4 linked regions of the Homo sapiens genome follow. The protein of the gene in region 4 purifies or fractionates together with the protein of the main gene of each other region. This does not show direct contact. Each region holds a gene or a part of one and is shown on either strand. Other genes may lie near its edges.

Evidence for each region.
Region 1: the proteins of IBSP (region 4) and RSPRY1 purify together in Homo sapiens (affinity purification with mass spectrometry; one large-scale study listed by BioGRID and IntAct). This does not show direct contact.
Region 2: the proteins of IBSP (region 4) and PLXDC2 purify together in Homo sapiens (affinity purification with mass spectrometry; one large-scale study listed by BioGRID and IntAct). This does not show direct contact.
Region 3: the proteins of IBSP (region 4) and PSMG2 purify together in Homo sapiens (affinity purification with mass spectrometry; one large-scale study listed by BioGRID and IntAct). This does not show direct contact.

Annotation. Positions count from the first base shown.
Region 1 is NC_000016.10:57,210,329-57,213,828, reverse strand, and holds part of RSPRY1 (RING finger and SPRY domain-containing protein 1 isoform 1 precursor), read right to left. Parts: intron 858-3,500; coding exon 731-857; intron 1-730.
Region 2 is NC_000010.11:19,822,852-19,826,446, forward strand, and holds part of PLXDC2 (plexin domain-containing protein 2 isoform 1 precursor), read left to right. Parts: intron 1-3,595. UniProt on the Homo sapiens protein: May play a role in tumor angiogenesis.
Region 3 is NC_000018.10:12,716,505-12,720,099, reverse strand, and holds part of PSMG2 (proteasome assembly chaperone 2), read right to left. Parts: intron 1,584-3,595; coding exon 1,465-1,583; intron 1-1,464. UniProt on the Homo sapiens protein: Chaperone protein which promotes assembly of the 20S proteasome as part of a heterodimer with PSMG1.
Region 4 is NC_000004.12:87,805,960-87,809,554, forward strand, and holds part of IBSP (integrin-binding sialoprotein precursor), read left to right. Parts: intron 1-162; coding exon 163-225; intron 226-3,595. UniProt on the Homo sapiens protein: Binds tightly to hydroxyapatite. Appears to form an integral part of the mineralized matrix. Probably important to cell-matrix interaction. Promotes adhesion and migration of various cells via the alpha-V/beta-3 integrin receptor (ITGAV:ITGB3).

The sequences.
Region 1 (3,500 bases), on a different chromosome or scaffold from region 4:
GTAACAATCAAATTGTTTTGGTAGAACTCTTTCATGCACATTATCTTATTAAAGCCTCCTGCTCTGAGGTAGAAAATAGTACTAGCTCCATTTCACAGTTAAGCAAGTGAGCCCACAGAATTAAGCAACTAACTCCAGGGCACTTGGCAAGCACATGGGAGAGTCCAAACCAGTAGCCACATGTTCTGATTTCTAATCCATTGTTTCTTCCACATTACGTGATGTAAGTAGCTGAGCTATGCCCCTGTACTTTGCTGTTAACTTTCTTAAAATGGGTAACATTCATAAACAAATTAAATACCTGCTTCTCAGGAACTGCTCCAACCAGAAGTTCCTTTTCCTCTCCCTCTACCTTGTATGTCTTCATAATCGAGCTAAACTTTATAAAGTGTGTATATATGCAAATTATATATTGTATACACACATACATATCTTTGTTATGCTGAATTTAGCTTTTCTCCCTTTTTTCTTTTCCTCGCTCCTTATTCTTAAAGCAAATAAGCACAACTTTTTTCTTTTAAAATTTCCCCTGAAAATCCACAAAGCTAAATTAAATTGCATTCACCTCTGTAGCCTTTCAGTAATTTTCTTCCAGTTAGTCTATGTCTCTCAATATCATTTTTAAGAGATTTCTTTCTGGTATAGCAGTTTGATCAAAGACATACAGTACAAATTTCCCTTTAATGTCAAACAACTTAAGATCTTCCACTGTGGAGTGTCCCAAAGTTACCTGCTAGTTTCTCGGCCAAGCAGCCTAGGACTGCAGATGTGTTCCTGTGTTTGGCAGGATGGCTTGAGTCCTGGCAAGCTACTTCTCCATTTAAATTGAGAATTTCAGTCAATTTCTGGAGTGCATCCTAAAACAAAAAAGTACAAGTGGGTTTGACCCATATACTACACAGGTTGTTTTCCCAGGCTCATTTTTTTTTTGAGACAAAAGCTATAACCAGCACTTTGGGAGGCCGAGGCGGGCGGACCACAAGGTCAAGAGTTCGACACCAGCCTGGCCAACATGGTGAAACCCCATCTCTACTAAGAATACAAAAATTAGCCAGGTGTGGTGGTGCGCGCCTGTAATCCCAGCTACTCAGGAGGCTTAGGCAGGAGAATCACTTGAACCTGGGAGGTAGAGGTTGCAGTGAGCCGAGATCGTGCCACTGCACTCCAGCCTGGACGACAGAGCAAGGCTCCGTCTCAGGGGGGTGGGGGGAGCTATAACCAGGTGTTAAATAAACTCAGAATGACCATATAAAAATTATGCAATGTACCCTAATGATATCATTGATGGGAAATATCTGATCAACCTGAAAGTCTCCTTACATGACTTACTAGATTCCACTTCATTCAGAATGCTTAAGTTGTATCAAATATATGCTACATATTCTTGAATCACTAAACAGATTAAACCCACTCAGATGCCATTATGAAAACATTAAAGGCTGGTGATGTTGAAGTAAAAAGTTACTTTAAAAAAAGTTTTACTAAGCAAAAACAAATCCCAGCAGAGTTTTCTTCTTTTCTTTTTGCTCTTGCTCTGTTTCCCAGGCTGCTGTGCAGTGAAGTGATCATGGCTCACTGTAGCCTTTACCTCCTGGGCTCAAGTGATCCTCCCACTTCAGCCTCCCTCGTAGCTGGGACTACCGGCACATGTCACAGTGCCCAGATAATTTTAATTTTCTGTAGAGATGGGAATCTCATTATGTTGCCCAGGCTGGTCTTGAACTCCTGGCCTTAAGTGATCCTCCTGCTTCAGCCCCCAAAAGTTTTGGGATTATAGGCATGAACCACTGCACCCTGCCCCAACAGAGTTGAAGGCAAATTGAAACAGGCAGCTCTTATAAGCCTAGGCAAAGGTCAATTCATTGGTGACTACGCTAAAGACTTTCCCCTTCCGTCCACAATGTTTTTCTGCACTGGGCTTAAACAGATGAATGAAAATGCCAGAATTGAGGCTGGGCACAGTGGCTCATGCCTGTAATCCCAGCACTTTGGGAGGCCAAGGTGGGAGGATGCTTGAGCCCAGGAGTTTGAGACCAGTCTGGGCAACATAGCAAGACTCCATCTTAAAAATGAAAGATGCCAGAATCCAAAAGAAGAAAAAAAGAAAAAAAAAAAGGACTCTGTAAAACACATGGGAAAGCAATGAAAGTTCGATGCTTTTGTTCTATGTAAAGGATAACCAATGTTACACTAATCATTAATACATTTGAGTAAGATTCAAAAGTGCTTTCAGTTTTAACTTTTTTTTGTTGTTGTTGTTGAGATGGAGTCTCACTCTGTCGCCCAGGCTGAAGTGCAGTGGTGCAATCTCAGCTCACTGCAGCCTCCACCTTCCGAGTTCAAGTGATTCTCCTGCCTCAGCCTCCTAAGTAGCTGGGATTACAGGTGCACGCCATCGTGCTGGCTAATTTTTGTATTTTTAGTAGAGATGAGGTTTCACCATGTTGGCCAGGCTGGTCTTGAACTCCTGACCTCAAGTGATCTGTCTGCCTTGGCCTCCCAAAGTGTTGGGATTACAGGCATGAGCCACCGTGCCTGGCTTTCTTTTTTTTTTTTTTTTTTAACAGAGACAAGGTCTCACTATGTTGTTCAGGCTGGTATCAAACTCCTGAGCTTAACTGATCCTCCTGCCTTGGTCTCCCAAAGTGCAGGGATCACAGGCATGAGCCAGTACATTCAGCCCAGTTTTTCCTCTTAATAAAAAACATTCTTAAAACTTTTGTTATGAGGAAATTGCTTAGAGAAAGATAAGAAAATCAGCGAAGCAACTCAACATTCTCTTCTAGCTTCTGAATAAAGATCGCCACCTGAGATACAAATACTTCTTTTTTTAACCAGGCTGGAGTGCAATAACGCCATCTTGTCTCACTGCAATCTCGACCTCCAGATTGCAAGTGATCCTCCCACCTCAGCCTCCTGAGCAGCTGGGACTATAGGCATGCACCACGTTACCCTGTTAACTTTTGGATTTTTTTGTAGAAACAGGGTTTCACCATGTTGCCAGGCTGGTCTTGAACTCCTGGACTCAAACAATCTGCCTGCTTTGGCCTCCCAAAGTGTTGAGATTACAAGTGTGAGCCACTGCGCCCAACCTAAATGCTTCTTTTTTTTTTTTTGAGACAGAGTTTCGCTTTGTCGCCCAGGCTGGAGTGCAGTAGCACAATCTCAGCTCACTGCAACCATTGCCTCCCAGGTTCAAACAATTCTCGTGCCTCAGCCTCCTGAGTACTGGGATTACAGGTGCCTGCCACCACTCCCGGCTGATTTTTAGTAGAGACGGGGTATTTTAGTAGAGACGGGGTTTCACCATGCTGTTCAGGCTGGTCTCGAACTCCTGACCTCAGGTGATCCACCCACCTCAGCCTCCCAAAGTGCTAGGATTACAGGCGTGAACCACCGCGCCCAGCCTTAAATGCTTCTATTTTTAACATTTAAAAAATTTTAACCTAGGCTGGGCACAGTGGCTTACACGTATAATCCCAACACTTTGAGAAGCCAAG
Region 2 (3,595 bases), on a different chromosome or scaffold from region 4:
AGATAGGACTTTCAAAAAGTTTATTCCACTATTTTCCTATACTGCTAGTTTCTTTCTGGATGTTTACTTACTTTTTTTTTTTGAGACAGAGTCTCGCTGTTTCTCCCAGTCTGGAGTGCAGTGGCGCGATCTCAGCTCACTGCAAGCACCGCCTCCCAGGTTCACGCCATTCTCCTGCCTCAGCTTCCCAAGTAGCTGGGACTACAGGCACCCGCCACCACGCCCAGCTAATTTTTTGTATTTTTTAGTAGAGACGGGGTTTCACTGTGTTAGCCAGGATGGTCTCGATCTCCTGACCTCGTGATCAACCCACCTCAGCCTCCCAAAGTGCTGGGATGTTTACTTATGCTTTTAATTTAATATCTTAAAATATGATATACATATATATGTACATATGCATACATATATGGTGGTGGTGGTGTTTCATTTCACTGAAGATGAAGACTATTAAATAATTTTGGTTCTTTGTGGGATTCTTTTTGAATTAAACTGTTTTAGGCCTCATGTCACTAAACTATAATGAAGGAGGCTGTAAAAATATTGTCTCGGCTGGGCGTGGTGGCTCACACCTGTGATCCCAGCACTTTTTTGGGAGGTGGAGGTGGGTAGATCAAGAGGTCAGGAGATCAAGACCATCCTGGCCAACATGGTGAAACCCCGTCTTCCCTAAAAATAAAAAAAATTAGCCAGGCATGGTGGCATGCACCTGTAGTCCCAGCTACTCAGGAGGCTGAGGCAGGAGAATCGCTTGACCCGGGAGGTGGAGGTTGAGATTGCGCCACTGCACTCCAGCTGGGCGACAGAGCAAGACTTCATCTCAAAAAAAAAAAAATTCTCATAAAACTTGTTTTGAGGTGAGGTTCAGTGGCTCACACCTGTAATCCCAACACTTTGGGAGGCCGAGACAGGGGGATTGCTTGAGTCCACGATTTGGAGACCAGCCTGGGCAACATAGGGAAGAGACCTCATCTCTACAGTTTTTTTGTTTTGTTTTGTTTTGTTTTTAATTAGCTGTTCATGGTGGTGCACACCTGTAGTCCCAGCTACTTGGTAGGCTGAGGTGGGAGGATCACTTGAACCCAGGAGGTCAGGGCTGCAATGAGCTGTGATTACACCACTGCATTCCAGCCTGGCCAACAGAGTGTGACCCTGTCTCAAAAAGTAAAATAATAAAAAATCTTGCTGTGGGAGCTGTTACAGGGAAGCAGATGAGGATATTCTGCAATACATTTCACGGTGTCTGCTCCCCAAGATATTATGCCATGAGAAAATGAGAAAGAGAAAGAGACAGAGACAGGGTGAGAGACCTTATGTTTCAATAACAGACATAGTTCTTTTGAACTTGTTTGTGTCTTCTGGACATTATAAATAGTACCTAGGAGTTTTACCATTTAACTTTTGGTTTCTTGAAATCTCAGTGCAAGATTTGTGGCCCACCTCCAACAAGCATATAAACCTTCTGGCCTACATTTGTGTGCTAGCTTACCTATGTCTTCATCTTACCTTTTCTACCTTTTCTCACTTAAAATCTTGTTTGGTATTTGTTTTGGAGATGGGAAAAAAGCAAATAAAATTGAATCGCCATAATACATAAGGTTGTGTATCACTAAGTTGCTTTCCACTTTCTCTTAATCTGATGAATTCCAGCCCTTTGGCTTTATTCTGAGCACATTTTCCCAAAGCTGTAATTATCTCTGTAGAGTACTCCATTCTGAGAGGTCTTTCTTCACTGAGTTCACACAGGATATCTTCCCTCACTGCCTCCCACACAATGATTCTGTTAAGCTGAGGAAGTTACTAGAGAATGACAGGCTAAGTAGTGATGCTTTTATTAAGAAAGTTTCTTCCACTATTTATTGTGTTATACATTAACAGGATAATAGCTGACAAAAGATGAGAATATAAAATATTCCACATGTGTTTATAACCAGACAGTGAACTCATTTCATATTTATTGTTTGGTTTTATTTTCCTCTTTTTAATTAAAAAGGTGGTAAGCTGTGGAATGATGGTATAGATTTGTATATTTAAATAGAATTAGAGGTCTTGTCAGGGGCCTGTTTGGAATTAGCCTGTTAAGGATTACAGATCTGAACATGGGGTCAGACACTAAGTGACGTTACTGGATATCCAGACTTTTAAATCTCTTCTGTCAGAGGCCATCAAACCAGATCTAAGCGCTGGTACCTTTACCTTACCCTTCAAATTAAAATAGGCTGTCCTCACTCTTTCTGCTTGAGGCCTTATCATAGTTAGTGGTCTGTGAATTTTGTCAAGAGAGGGTCACAGGCCAAGATGCAGACTGACTTCCTTTTTACTTGTCTGGAATCTTATTACTCAGTTCCTCAATTATTTTTTACTCAATAATTGGACATTTTCCTTAGAATCCATGTTGTTCGAGGTCTCGTCCTGTAGGTAAGGTGTGTAGCTCATTGAGGCTTTGAGAATATGGAGAGAATGTTAAGAGTTTGCCCTATGGAAAAACTGCATAGGAATCCGAATATTTGAAAGTCAATTCTCTATGTATTCCTTGGAGTGTTCAGTGATACAAAAAGTCTAAATAAAACTGATATATTCTCTTTGAGTATGATGCTTGGTAAGTACACTCTGGTTCATTTTGCTTAGGATACTGTATTCTTGGGTCCAGCTGGAATATGGAACATTGAACATTCGATAATGTTTTTTGGGTAGTAGTTACAGATATCTGCTTACAGTAGCAACTGCTTACAGTAGTAACTCCTACCATTTTCTGTCTGAAACCATTATATGAACATCCAATAAAATATTTATTTCCCTAAAGCCTAAAAGGGAAGTAGGACAGGCAGAATTTATCATTTAGAGCATGAAATGTACCAATAATGATGAGTTTTAAGATGGGAAAGTATTTAAGGTACATTTCAGGTACTGCTCATGCTGAATCTATTATATCTATTTGCTGAATTCTTTCCAACATACAAACTTAGACTGTAGCTACCGCTGACCTAATGAACCTGGTTATTTATATGCTGTCTTTTTGTTCATTTGTCTGGTCAAAAGGGCCCACTCACCTTCCTGTGGGCATAGCTGGCGGGAGCAAGTCTGGTATTTCAGCTGACTTCTCCTTTTGGCTTTCTCTTCTCCTTCTCCTTTTGCTATCTTTTCTCTTCAATTCATTGAAAAATGTCTATATATAAATTACATAAATGCAATCTGCATTGCAAAATATCCCAATGAAAAGTATATATGAAATAATTTTTGGCAAACTGAGTCATGTTCTTAGTGGATATGGGTTCCTGTGATTTCAAGGAATGCTGTCCTGAACTTTTAATTTAAAAACATTCAACCTCCTAATTATTTTGCCAGTCCGTAGTTTTATGTTTAAGATTGCCCAAAATGTACTGCCTGTCCATAATTCTTTCAAGAATTATTGCTTCTGATATTAGCCATTTTAATTCTATTTACTATTTATATAGGTCCTGGGAATATACACCTTTGAATTTTTTGTTGTTGTCATTTAGCCCTTTAATTTGCTAATTCCAGGAAACAAAAATTGAACTAAGAGACATACCACTGTGTCTTTGCACTTTTTTTCTTGGTGCTTGTTTGGAGCAGAAAC
Region 3 (3,595 bases), on a different chromosome or scaffold from region 4:
ACTCCAGCCTGGGTGACAGAGTGAGACTCCATCCCCAAAAGAATAAAAAATAAAAAATAAATGATCTAAATGCTACATCTTGGGGCCGGGCGTGGTGGCTCATGCCTGTAATCCCAGCACTTTGGGAGGCCCAGGCAGGCAAATCACCTGAGGTCAGGAGTTCGAGACCAGCCTGGCCAATATCCTGTCTCTACTAAAAACACAAAAAATTAGCCGGGTGTGGTGGCATGCGCCTGTAGTCCCAAGTACTCGGGAGGCTGAGGCAGGAGAACCGCTTGAACCCAGGAGGCAGAGGTTGCAGTGACTCGAGATTGCGCCACTGCACTCCAGCCTGGGCAACTGAGAACTGGGCAACTGAGAAAGACTCCGTCTCAAAAAAAAAAAGAGGAAAAAAAAAAAAAGCTACATCCTGGGGACGGGCACAGTGACTCATGCCTGTAATCCCAGCATTTTGGGAGACCCAGCAGGCGAATTACCTGAGGTCAGAAATTTGAGACCAGCCTGGCCAACACAGTGAAGCCCAGCCTCCACTAAAATTACAAAAATTAGTCTGGCGTGGCGGCAGGTACCTGTAATCCCAGCTACTCAGGAGGCTGAGGCAGGAGAATCGCTTGAATCCAGGAGGTGGAGGTTGCAGTGAGCTGAGACCATGCCACTGCACTCCAGCCTGGGTGACAGGGCAAGACTCCGTCTCAAAAATAAATAAATAAAAGCTACATCTTAGAGTATAAGAGTATTCTATATGATATGTTATCAACTTTATGTGGTAATGATAGCTTATAGTTCTATTTCTGGGATACTCTGTCTTACATTTAAGAACTCACTCTGACATGCCAGGGAGCTACCCTTTAGGCAAGTGGATTTCTGCAAATACGAATGGTTGCATGTGGCCAGGTGCGGGGGGCTCACACATGCAATCCCAATACTTTGGGAGGCTGAGGCAGGCAGACTGCTTGAGCCTGGGAATTCGAGACCAGCCTGGGCAACATAGCTAGACCCTGTCTCTACAAAAAGTAAATGTTTTTTAAAAAATGGTAGCATATATGGAAATAACTGAAAATATTAATCTTTCAAGGTAACATATGGAAATAACTGAAAATATTAACCTTTCAAAAGTTAGCAACTTTATAAATCTTGAGTACCTTTTCTGCTTATTCTCTTCAATTAGCTGAGCTCTGTGATGTTGCCATGTATGTGACGGGAAACACTAAAAACATGGTTCCCAAACTCTCTCTCTCTACACGATGTCTTCCCCATGCCCCAACTCTACTAAGCTCACAGGAACTGAAAAGATCTGCCTAACTGTACTCCCTCCCATCTCCTGACCTTCTCTTACCCCCCTCTTTCTAAACTCCAGTAAGAAGAGGTAAGGATCTACGTGGCTTTTAAAGTTTAACTTTTTAATAGAGAAATTATCATAGTATAAACCATACCAAAAATAACTTTCCAGAGGCAGAAACATACCTACGAAGCTGCAGATCATTACGCTGATATGAATGACTGCTTGAAAGAACAATGACTCTGGCACAGCCACTGCTTTTCACCCAGGAAAGCAGTTTTTCACAGAATGGCTTTGATTTATACTTTGCACACCATTGAGAGAATAAAAAGAAAATCTAAAAGTTAGTCTTAGAGCATACAAACATTCTATATACTATTTCATCAACTTTATGTGATAATGATATATAATTTATATATACTGAAATTATTTTCAGATCCACTTACTGTGCTTAAACCGAAAGTGAATGATAAAGAGCAATGAATTATCTAATGTATCTTTATAATTAAGAAATCAATGGCCATGCATGGTGGCTCACGCCTGTAGTCCCAGCACTTTGGGAGGCAGGCGGATCACCTGAGGTCAAGAGTTCAAGACCAGCCTGGCCAACATGGTAAAACCCCATCTCTACTAAAAATAAAAAAATCAGCGGGGCATGGTGGCAGGCACCTATAATCCCAGCTACTCAGGAGGCTGAGACAGGAGAATCACTTGAACCCAGGAGGTGAAGGCTGCAGTGAACCGAGATTGTGCCATTGCACTCCAGCCGGGGGAACCGAGTGAAACTTTCTCAAAAAAAAAAAAAAAAGAAAAAAGAAAAAGAAAAGAAATCAATGAATCATGAGGAATCTAGATTTCAAAAAAAATCTATTGTGATGGACAAAGGACAATTTCCCAGTTCTCTACTTGAGTAATCTATTGTTACCTAATAACCAATACATGGTCATCTGTGAAGGGTTCTTGCCAGAAATTTGTGACCCGAATCTGGTCACATGGAAACAATCAGATGAATGGAGAATGCTCCACATCCAGCCCCGGTTCCTCAAAGGAGTCAATATTGTAAAGAAAGAAAGAGGGGCAGGCCAGTTTTACTCTGAAGGATAACAACTAAAAAGATGTAACAGCCAAATACAACCTGTGAACCATCAATGGATCCAGAATTGAAGGATACTTTCGGAACAGCTGTGGAAATTTGAGTATGTTGGATGATACTCCTGAATAAATTCATTAAATGCTGGTTTTCTTGGGTGTGGTAATGGTGTCCTGTTCTTGAAAGATGTGTGCGGAAGTATGTAGGGGTGACCATTGCTAGCCTACTTCTGGATTGTTTCGAAGAAGGAAACTGTGTACGCGCATAGCGAGAGATCAAGTAGGTGTGGCAAGACATTCACAGCTGGTAAATCTGGAATGTGGGTTATAAAATTTCAGGGGGAGCCCGCTTTATGAAAATTTTTCAAAGACTGCTCATAAAATAACTACTCAATAAAATTTAAAATGCAGGTAAGAGAAATGCAGGCTAACTTTTAAAATAAGAAGGTAGTCTAGTGCAGCAGTTAAGAGAGGCAGGCTCTGGGACAGGCAAGGTGGCTCACTCCTGTAATCCCAACACTTTGGGAGGCCGTGGTGGGCAGACTACTTGAGCCCAGGAGTTAAAGCCCAGCCTAGGCAATATAGTGAGACCCTGTTACTACAAAAAAAAAAAAAATTATTACACATGGTAGTGCACGTCTGTAGCCCCAGGTACTCAGGAGGCTGAGGTGGGAGGATCATTTGAGCCTCGGAGGTCAGGGCTGTAGTGAGCCATAGTTGTGCCACTGCACTCCAGCCTGGGTGGAGTGACACCCTGTCTCAAAAAAAAAAAAAAAAAAAAAAGTAAAAGAAAAAAGGCAAGCTCTGGAGCCAGGCTGCCTGGGTTAGAGTGCTGGTCCTGCCTCCCTAAGATCATGTGTCAGGCAATTGCTTAATCTTTCTGTACTTCAGTGTTTCCTTTGAAAAATAAGGATAATATTAGTATCTGTCTTATAGGTTTGTCATGAGGATTAAGTAATAAATATAAGGTACTTAGAACAGTATCAGCACAAAGAATCAATGCTCAATAAATGTTTGCTATTTTGAAATTAGTCTTGTGGCCAGGCACGGTGGCTCACGCCTGTAATCCCAGCACTTTGGGAGGCTGAGGCGGGCAGATCACAAGGTCAGGAGATCGAGACCATCCTGGCTAACACGGTGAAACCCCGTCTCTACTAAAAATACAAAAAAATTAGCCGGGCGTGATGGTGGGCGCCTGTAGTCCCAGCTACTCGGGAGGCTGAGGCA
Region 4 (3,595 bases):
AATCTGTTCTTAGTAAACAAGTCAGTCAAGATGGTAATACTAATTAGATTGAGTAAATATTTGTGTGTATTTTATTGTGATTCAATTAGCAGGAAATTTAAATTGCTGTTGAATATATTTGTACACAGATAAGAGTATACATACATGTGTATATATTTTTAGGGCAGTAGTGACTCATCCGAAGAAAATGGAGATGACAGTTCAGAAGAGGAGGAGGAAGAAGAGGTAAGGAATTTTGCAATCTTTTCGTAATAAAGCAGACAGCACAAGAAACAAATAGGAAACTAGTCTATTGCATTCTGGACTCAGCAAATAGCCATTGTCACTTTACTAACTGCCCATAATATCCTATTTTGGATAAGCAGAATTTTATTTAAATTAGGATCCACTAACATGACCTGTTTAAAACACTATTGCAGTTTGGGGTTGAAATTACTTACAAATGGTGCTCAAAACCAAAAATCTCTCCCTTTTAAGTAGAAGTAGTATAAAATCTGATAAAAAGCAACAGAAGTAGTATAAAATCTGATAAAAAGTAACAGATAGCATTACTTCTATTTAGGTGGATAGAACATGATGTTAGAAGACAAGTGAATAGTAATCCTAAACTCAGTGCAAGACTTGTTTTAAGGACTGAACTTTACAATTTAATTTACCAAGAGGGTAATATGTAAAAACCCGTATATCTCCTCTACAATATTATTGTGATTCATCAGCCTTTCATAACCCACAAAGTAGGGTTATTCTTTTTAAAAAAATTTCAGGCTTGTTGTGGTGGCTCATGCCTGTAATTCCAACACTCTGAGAGGCCAAGGCGGCCAGATCACTTGAGGTCAGGAGTTTGAGACCAGCCTAGCCAACATGGTGAAACCCTGTCTCTACTAAACATACAAAAATTAGCCAGGTGTGGTGGCATACACCTGTAATTCCTGTCACTCGGGAAGCTGAGACATGAGAATCACTTGAACCCGGAAGGTGGAGGTTGCAGTGAGCCAAGATCCTGTCACTGCACTCCAGTCTGCGCAACAGAGCAAGACTCTGTCACAGAAAAAAAAAACAAAAACAACAAAAAAAAATCATACGTCTTTTTGGGTAGTAATAAAATTCATAGGTATATAAATATCTTCCCATATAGTTTTACAGATTAGTGTAGTCCTGGGCTAAGAATCATCTACATGTCTTGGAAATTGTGCTACCATGTTTATAACTGATACTCTTGCCTAAGGAAACATACCAATTAGGATGCATCTTTCCCGCATAGTCAATTATAGCTACCACTGGTTTAGGAACCTTTTAAATTCAGCTTTTCTCAGGTGCTATTTATGAATGGACAATGATATTCAAAAATGGATCATGTATTAACAGCTGTCTTGAAAACAAAATGGTGTGGGAACTTGAAAGGTGACGAATCATTAGTTTGGTATATTTTTAACTATAAAAGTAACATTTCCCGTATCATAATTTATACTAACATCTTGAAGGAAGGCCTTACAAGAATGTTAAGCCAGTACCAGGAAAAATGCCACCCACTAAATCCCACAACATTTCTGCTGGAGTTCCACATAGCAATCTTACACAAGAACTAGGCTAAGGTTATCCATTTAGTTATAGCTATTTGCTGTACAGTGATTGTAAAATTGCCTTGTCAACTACATTTCCCAACTAGATTGCATAACTTTTGGGAGTGGCTCTTCGTTTGTTGTTGTGGTGGTTGAGGACTGAGGAAGACTAGGACTTCTTTGGGGACTCTGATGAAATCAAGTACACACAAAATTTTGCCAAGGATCTCTGAACATTTAAGGTCTTCCCAGAACGTGTCTGCAGACACCTCATGACCATAGGTTAAAATCCCTGCTTTGGGGAAGAGCCATGCTACTCAGTTTTATATCTCTTCATGCTGCCTAGCATAATTTCTTATACATATATGGTGCCCAGTACATATCTGGTGGTTTGGTTTTGAAACTTCAGAGGAATAAATGCAACAAACTTCATTCATTAAAAGTAGTAATGGAAAAGCGGGTAAACAAAACCAGAAGTCTTTCATCCTGAAGAGATTCTGAAACATCTTTTTTCCTCATTCTCTAAAATGTTATTAGCAATTTAGGTTAAATATAGAGTCCCCAGGGATTGTATTTGTATGAGGAGAATACTTAGGCATATTTTCTATTTGGTGATCACACATTTCCTTTTTCCACTCCTAAACTATTTAGTCTCATAAAATAAACTTTTTTTTTTTTTTTGAGACGGAGTCTCGCTCTGTTTCCCAGGCTGGAGTTCAGTGGCTTAATCTCAGCTCACTACAAGCTGCACCTCCCAGGTTCACGCCATTCTCCTGCCTCAGCCTCCCAAGTAGCTGGGACTACAGGCACCGGCCACCATGCCTGGCTAATTTTTTGTATTTTTAGTAGAGATGGGGTTTCACCATGTTAGCCAGGATGGTCTTGATCTCCTGACCTCGTGATCCGCCCGCCTCGGCCTCCCAAAGTGCTGGGATTACAGGAGTGAGCCACCGCGCCCAGACATAAAAGAAACTTTTATTGAAATATACATAATAAAATTATCCTAATTATACATCTCATTGAAATTTCAGAAATTGAACACGTAAGTGAAACTAGCACTCATATCAAAAAGCAGTGCGTGCCTTGTGTTCCATTCCACTCATTAACAAACCCCTACCAAAGGCAAGCAGTATTTTGACTCTTAATAGATTGACTTTGGCCTGTTTTTGTATATTATGAATGTAGGATCATACATGATTTACTCTTTGTGTGTCACTTCTTCACTCTCAAATTTAGAGATTCATCCATGTTGTTCTGTAGTTGTAGATCATTTATTCTCATTGTTAGTATTTCATTACGTGAATGTACCAAAATGTGTTATTCTTCTGTTGATGGGCACTTAAGTAGTTTCCAAGTTTGGGTGATTACAAAGTGCTGCTATGAACTTTCTAGAACTTATTCTGGTGAACATATACATATTCATTTCTCGAGGCCATTTCACCTAAAAGTGAAATTTCGGAGTCGAAATCTACTGAGGCATATATATTCAACCTTAGTAGATGGCAACCAGCTTTCCAAAACAGACGTACTCAGGTAAACTCTCACCATCCGTGTATGAGGGTTCCGGTTGCTCCACATTCTCACCAACACTTGCTTCTTTCAGTCTTGTTAGCCAATCTAGTGAGTTGATAATATCTTTGTAAGCGCAAATTAGTGCTATTTTTCTATCCAATAAAATTTGTGAAGCCTCATACCCATCAACAGTAACCTATTTTCCTATGTAACTCATGTGCAGCGGAACATCCTTAAATAAAGTATCTGGGAAAAGAAAAGGTGTAAGAGAAAATATAAAAGTTGGGATATTGGGCCTTTAGTTGTGACCCTACCACCAATAAACTGCTATCTATTTGACCTCATATGAGTCATATAAGCCAATCAGATTTTTCAACTGCAAATAGTATATTCTTCTACTCTGGGGATCTTTCTAAGGATGGTAGAATAAATTTCTCCTTCTACCTCTGAAACATCTGTTGGAATAAAGCATAAACATAAAACAATAAACAAACACATGGTGTTTTGGGGATATTTGACACAAT